2 linked regions of the Homo sapiens genome follow. The protein of the gene in region 2 interacts with the protein of the main gene of each other region in a pairwise test. Each region holds a gene or a part of one and is shown on either strand. Other genes may lie near its edges.

Evidence for each region. The genes of interacting proteins can lie anywhere in the genome.
Region 1: the proteins of DISC1 (region 2) and SPTBN1 interact in binary tests that used the Homo sapiens proteins (3 or more experiments, as listed by UniProt).

The regions. Positions count from the first base shown.
Region 1 is NC_000002.12:54,630,699-54,634,353, reverse strand, and holds part of SPTBN1 (spectrin beta chain, non-erythrocytic 1), read right to left. Parts: intron 3,500-3,655; coding exon 2,743-3,499; intron 1,789-2,742; coding exon 1,586-1,788; intron 1-1,585. UniProt on the Homo sapiens protein: Fodrin, which seems to be involved in secretion, interacts with calmodulin in a calcium-dependent manner and is thus candidate for the calcium-dependent movement of the cytoskeleton at the membrane.
Region 2 is NC_000001.11:231,633,139-231,636,793, reverse strand, and holds part of DISC1 (disrupted in schizophrenia 1 protein), read right to left. Parts: intron 1-3,655. UniProt on the Homo sapiens protein: Involved in the regulation of multiple aspects of embryonic and adult neurogenesis. Required for neural progenitor proliferation in the ventrical/subventrical zone during embryonic brain development and in the adult dentate gyrus of the hippocampus.

The sequences.
Region 1 (3,655 bases), on a different chromosome or scaffold from region 2:
AAATGAAGGTTAAGCCACAACTGAGGGCTGCTGCTGCTGAAACGTTTTATCATATCCAGGAGTCTAGACAGCATCATCTGCTTCCAACAGCTTTGTGCAGTTGCAGCACTGGGGACATAAAAAGAAACCGAGGAAGCAGCAAGGCAGCTGCATGCCTGCCTGAATGCACACATCCCTAACAGCCAAGCCCGCCTGCAGGAAACCAGCTGTGTGCATCTAACATGGAAGTACATAGGATATCTTATTTACAAAATACTCAGAGTTAATATTACAAAAAAAGGAAATTCTTTTTCCCTAGGTTATGAATGCTTTGCCCAATTGCTGTTTCTCATGCTCATTTAAGGAGGGTTTGGTGGATTTATTTTTCTTTTTTGCAGCTGTTTTAAAAGCAACAGATACAAAATTATAATTAACATAAGTTATTCTCTATTCCACAATACCACCCTAGAACATATAGTTCAGCCTGGGAATCAGCTCAGAAAAAAAGATTGGAAGTGGTAAAGACAGGAGCTCAATCTTTATTGGAAACAGAGTAATCCCCTCTCCACCCATCTTATTTTAAGTCAACCTGACCAGGGGTCCCAGGAAACCCTCTCAGATGTGGTAAGCAAAGGAATATTTTTCCTTTCCAACACACTTGAAGGCCAGAAGAGAGGCAGAAAGGAAGGGCTTGTTTTTTGATTACATCAGTCTCACAGCAAGCCCTTAAATTCAACCCAAACTGGAACAGGGGCTAGTGATTGATCCAGTGGCTGGCCCAGACTGGCCTGTGCTAGTGCATCCAACCCCTGATCTGCCCCAACCTCCAACTTAAGTAACCGGGGCAAGGCAAGAGTAAGGAGTGAGTCAAAGAGTTAGGGTCAAACAGAGTCCACTGGCCTCCAGCCGGGGAGGAAATCTTTCAGACAGACAGACAGACACACACACGCACACACACACACACACGTAAATAAAAAAATAATTTTAAACAAGAAATGAAGAAAGTGTATCCAATCCTGGAGATGCCCTGGCAGAAGAGGAAAATAACCTTTGCTCTTATTTACCTCTCCATCATGAAAAAGATCCTATTACAGCACTATCCAAGCCAATTTTCTAAAAAAGTCCAGGTAATGTTCCTTTGTAGCTTTGCCAGGTACTCAGAACAAGCAAGCTTCACCCTCCCTTCCCACTCTCCTGACAGGCTTCTTTCTCATGGATGAAGGGGAACACGGGCTTGGCTGGGAATACCTGGCGCCAGGGGTCCTATCAGGTGACACAAGCGTGTGTTAATCCTCAAAGGGCATGGCTTACACCTGATCGCGATGCAGCACTACGGCTCTTACAGGTCCTCGGTTAAGAATTAGCTTGGCTTCTCAGGCTTTCTTTCCTTTTGTGGACACTTGTACATGTCTCACCAGACCCACATTCTCAGGCAGTCATGCACAGCTCACTAATTTTCTGTATGGGTAGATGAACTTCTGCTGGGCACCCATATTCTGCCCACTGGGAAATTTATACCTAAACTCCCAAGGGCTTCTGGCCAATGATTCAGAAGTTTGAGAGCCCCAAGGTGCAAGGCTCCCTTAAGAACCTCAGAAAACTGTACCTGTCATCAATAGAGTCCACCTTCTCCTGGATGCGATCTGAGTTGATGTTCCCATCGCTCACCAGCCTCCGGCCAGTCTCCACCACAGCATTGATCTTCTCCTCATTGGCGTCCATGGTGGTCATGAAGTCCTCTTGCTTTTTAATTGCTGCTTCAGCTCCTTCCAAGGTGGTAGGCATTTCAGTGTGAGCCAGAACATACTCCTTATTTAAAAAGAGGAACAAATCATAGCAGATCAATGAAGGATCTCATTTTCCTGTGTTCTACATTTCCGTGCAACATAGTTCACAACACTTTCTTCATTACACTTACATGAAATAATTAAATCACATCAAATTAAAAGTTAGGAGGAAAAAAACCCAGTGGGACACTGTAACTGACCGAATTTCCCTCAGGGGTTAATGCTCTAAATTTTTTTTTCCAAAGAGAGTGAGGAAAGGAACCAAAGCTTTGTGTATCAGCCTCAAGGGTCCTCTCACGTGCCTATCAAGGCAACAGCAATGTACCCTTCATACTCTCTCTTTGAGACAGTAACAGCCCTGAAGTTGGTGACTATCCTCAGCTGTTTTTATTTCTCTAATCTCTACTTTGTGTCCTCAGGTGAAGTCCCTGACCCTTCTAGAGCAAGAAGACAGACTGGTCTCAAGAAAAAAAAAAATCCTCACCGTACTTTTTTTTTTTTTTTTTTTTTAAGAGACAGGGTCTCACCCTGCCACCAGGCTGGAGTGCAGTGGCACGATCACGGCTAACTTCACCCTTGACCTGCTGGGCTCAAGTGATTCTCCTGTCCCAGCCTCCCCAAGAGCTGGGATTACAGGAGTGAGTCATCATGCCTGGCCCTCACTGTATCTTTTAAATTGGATCAATACCTCAATTATGAAGACATACTATGAACACATAAGAGATCCTCAATGGCAGTTGAAATCAAACAGTACTTTGTAAGGCAAAGCAGCTCTTATGGCAACTTTCAATTCCTGTCCCCTACAACGTGATGGATTTCAATGCCTTAAGAGTATGGGGAAAAAAAAATCAGTCTCTAAATTATCCATATAATTCCATACAGGTGTGGTTTAAACCAGCTGCCCCAGCCAAAACATTTCAAAAGGCAGCCAGGGCTGCTTTCACCGAAAGGAAGCAAAGGCAGGAACAAACCTTACCTGGTTGTTAAGAAAGGCTTCGGCTTGCTTCGTGTCTCTGAGGAACTGCTGGTAGGCATGTGACTGGGATAGGAGATTTTGTCTGTTCTCCCACATCTTGTGGAGCTCGTTCCATCCAGTGTCCAGGGCCTGCAGCCGCTGCCGCAGAAACATGTACTGGGCATCGGTCTGCCCCTGGGTGACCATCTCGCCCATGTCCCTCATCTTCTGGTAGTCCTCCTCGTAGTTGTCGATCTCGTTCTTGATGTTCTCGTGCTGCGTGAGCAGCTTCTCAGCCTCGGTCAGGGTGTTTGGCATGTCCTCCGAGGCGATCGCTGTCTGGGTCCTAGAGAGCCAGGACTGGAAGTCGTCCAAGTCCCGTAGGAACTGCTGCAGCTTGCTGGCCTCTCCCAGGGAGGCCTCTCGGTTTTTCAGGGTGGTCTTCATCTCCTCCCACACGTCGCTGATCTCGGCCAGCCGAGACAGGATGGCCTGGGCCTGGTCGGGGTGCTCGGACTCCAGCTTCTCCGCCTCCTTCTGCAGGTCACTCAGCTTTGCCTCAATGGCCACCAAGTCCCGCTCCATGCCGGTCAGCTTGCGCTGCAGGGCCATGACGCCAGCCAGGTCATTGCCCAGGTCCTGGGTGGACTCGATGACCTTGGTCTTTTCCCGAATCCAGGATTTGGTTTCATTGCACTCGAGGTGGTAGTTCTGGATGCTCAGGGCAGACAGGAGGGCATCCTTCTTCCTGTCAACCAGTTCTCTGAACTGGCTCCACCTGTGAGTGCAGGGGCAGACAGCGAGTGTGAAAAAGGGAAGACTGACCATGGCTGGATTGCAAAAGGAACAGTGATGGGTTAATGCTGCTTATCTGTTTTCTCCATCTGTGCTTTGACTACATGCTTTTTTGGAAAATCATCTCACTCAAACTGTG
Region 2 (3,655 bases):
AGCAGAATAAAATTTTAAAGGTAGTGTCAATATAAATTCATACCAAGATTAGCTGAAGGGAAAGTAACTCCCATAAGACATCTCATTTTGTTTCCACTGAGCCTGTTCTGACTCCTTGAAATGGCAGAAACAGGGGTAATAACAATATCTTTTATCATGTATTACCTTATGCTTTTCAAAAAAAGTTTCAAAAACACAATAAATATTTGAATAAATGCACTTAGATAATCCCAAATCAGAGTCAAGAAAATATATAAAAGTTAAATTCAAATGATAGAATTTGTCCATTTTTCCATTCAAATTACAATTTAAGTCAAGTAAAGAAAGACATACAAAAGCTGCATGATTAGGAGGGAGTGCAGCGCTCATCCTCCTGTCCCCAAGGCCGATTAGCCAGCTGGGTGAGAGATGAGATCATGAGTTCTGGGCCAATGAGTCACTGCCCTTCACCATTGCCCCCAGACACAAACAGCTGCAGGTCTCCCAAAGCGTGTGTCCACCCTACGGAGCTGCCACCCTACAGAGGAGAAAATGTGGGTGAAAGTAAGCAAAAGCAACATCACAACCATGAAATTAACTCAGTGTTCTACAAATGGAGAATTATATATCTCTTTCTGAATGAAGAGCAGCATATTTCATACACAGTGTGGAAATAAACATTGAGTAAATTGTTTTCAAAATTGTCATACCTAGGAGTAAACCCAGCAATAGGTAAATTATAAATTAAAGGAGCCCTTCTTTCTTCCTCCATCTATCCATCCATCTAGACTGTAAGGTATTTATTAGGCATCTACTGGTGCTAAATACTTCTTAATGATTTTAGTACACCCCGATGTGCCCAGTCCTTCTGATGAAACAATATCCGGAAACTTCATGAGAATGAATTCTCTTTTTTCCACGGGACTATAGGCTTCTCAATGGTGTAGACAACACTATCTATTTGAATTTACATATCAATTTACACATATATATACAAACATAAGTATATATATTTTTTATATTCAAGAGCTATCATAGTATCTGACTATATAGTGTATGCATCTCAATAAATATTTAAACTGAACTGAACTTCTGAAACTCCTGATTGGTTTCAAAAGATATAAAAATAATAGACTTGGTTAATCTATGCATTGGATTAATACATCCTAAATATAATTAAGAGTTTGGTCTAATCCAGTGAGAACAGAGTAAACCATAAGTGTACTACATAGATGAGGGAGTAAGGAGATAAACCAGAACTGAAACCTTGAGTTGAAGAAGTCTACATTGGAGTCAGAAAAACAGGTTATATCCATAACAAACTATAACAGAAGAAGGAGAGAGCAGACGATTCCAGAGAACCAGGGAAGGCTGAGAAGCATTATTGATTTGCTAGGTGGTAAATGAGGGATGACATTTTGATGCGTTCAGATTGGGAGCAAGAAAGACGGATTCTGTAATATTCTCGGTGGGCAGAATAATGTGCATAATAAAAAGGCCAGAGTGTCCGTTTTAAGTGTTTAAGGGCCAGTGTATGGAAAGCTTGAAAAGAGATGCTAAGAATTTGCTTGGGGGGAGATAATGAGTCTCTGAAAGCCCCTTCCACAGAGGAACAATAACCCAATCAGATCTGTGCTTTGTGAGGACTGTCCTGGCAGCAGTGTGCAGGCCTGATTGGAAGGAGTTACTCAACAGAGACATAATGACATAATCCAGTATCAGAACTGGGAAGACACAGGAAGGGCTGGAACACCTTCTGAAGAGGCATCCTAGGTGTGGCTGTTAAGCTCTAAGGCCTAAGAATACCAGGCTCCCTTAGTTCTCTCTAGACTGGATGGCCCTTGAGAACAATCTACATTTTTGGTTTTGGGGGAGTTTTTTCATTTTTTTTTTGAGACAGGGTCTTGCTATGTTGTCCAGGCTGGAGTGCAGTGGCTATTTGTAGGCACAAGCATAGCGCACTGCCACCTTGAACTCCTGGCCTCAAGCAATCCTCCCGCCCCAGCCTTCCAAGGAGCTGGGACTATAGGCATGCACCACCATGCCTGGCACTCTACATTTTTAAGTACCCTGCAATGTACAACACTGTACTGTGTATACAGTAGGTGCTAGTGTTTGTGAATGAATAAATAAACACAATGGAAGAAATTAATGGATAAGTTAATGTCTCTAGGAGATAATTCTATAAACTAAGGAACACAAAATGATTAATAGAGTCGAGGCAATTTAAGGCCCCCAAATCTACTGTTTAAATTGAATACAGATGCTCTATCCCCAAGGACAGTGTCTCACATTTCATTTTGCTTGGCCTGCAGCTATAACACAAGACGCTAGGGAAACATTAAGACTTGTACTGAAATACGCAAACTTTTTTTCTTCAGAAGATTTGTGATCCCAAAACAGCTCTTGCAACTCTAAGTTTCCAGTGTAGCAGAAATATTAGAACCCCGTTTTATCTCTGTATTTACTTTTTTTTTCACTTGACCATTGTAAAATAATCTTCCTTTTCCTATCAGTGTTGGAGTAAGATGAGGCATGCTTTCACTACAAATGCAAAACACGCACATTCTCCTGTGTTAAAAATAAAGTCCAATAATCAATCCACTCACAAACCAAGAGATGACAGGTACAGGCCAGGCGCGGTGGCTCACTCCTGTAATCCCAGCACTTTGAGAAGCCGAGGCAGGCGGATCACTTGAGTTTAGGAGCTCAAGACCAGCCTGGCCGACATGGTGAAACTCTGTCTCTACTAAAAATACAAAAATTAGCTGCACGTGGTGGGGCATGCCTGTAATCCCAGGTACTTGGGAGGCTGAGGCAGAAGAATTGCTTGAACCTGGGAGGCGGAGGTTGCAGTGAGCCAAGACTGCGCCACTGCACTCCAGCCTGGGCTACAGAGCAAGACTCCGTTTCAAAAAAAAAAAAAAAAAGATGACAGGTATGAAAAAGAAAAGTTAGGTAGGCGTACATGTCACAAAATGCAATTTCAACTCAGATTCCACATTCAGGACACAACTTACTCATTAAACTTTAGATATTTCACCTTTCAACCTGTGAAAGCGATTAGTCTCCATGCAAGGCCACCTGTCAAATGCACGTTTCTACTCCTGGTAGATTTGTTCATCTGGGCGAACATAATTGTGTTAATGATCAATATCAATCCTAGACATGTACAGCTCTGGGGAGTTAAAGTAGCTACGACATTCGGGCAGATGACTGCAAAGAAGCTATCTAGGCTTCCTGAAATGGAACCACCTGGGCAAGGGAAGGAAGCAAAATGTGGAAGCCCAATGAGCAGGGAATAGGAAATTTACACAGTAGCTCAAATCCTGCACAATCCCAATCCTGCAGGACAACGATCACAGCATCTTAGCACTGGAAGGGTTCCCATTCATCATCCAACGCAGCCCCCTCCCCAGTGCAGAACCCTCATGACAGTCACCCTAGAGTCATCCACACTGCCCTACATACTTCCAATGACAAAATGCTCTCTGCCTTTCGGGGTAGCCTATTCCATCAATGGATAACTATTTTTAGCAAGTTTTTAATTTAGTCAAAAAGTGATACCTTTCTAATGTGTGGCTGTCATGCTAATTCTAATTCTGAACCAAGTAGCCACTCAATAAACGTTGAATGAATAAATAATGAATTCATGAACAAATAGATTCTTAAGGAT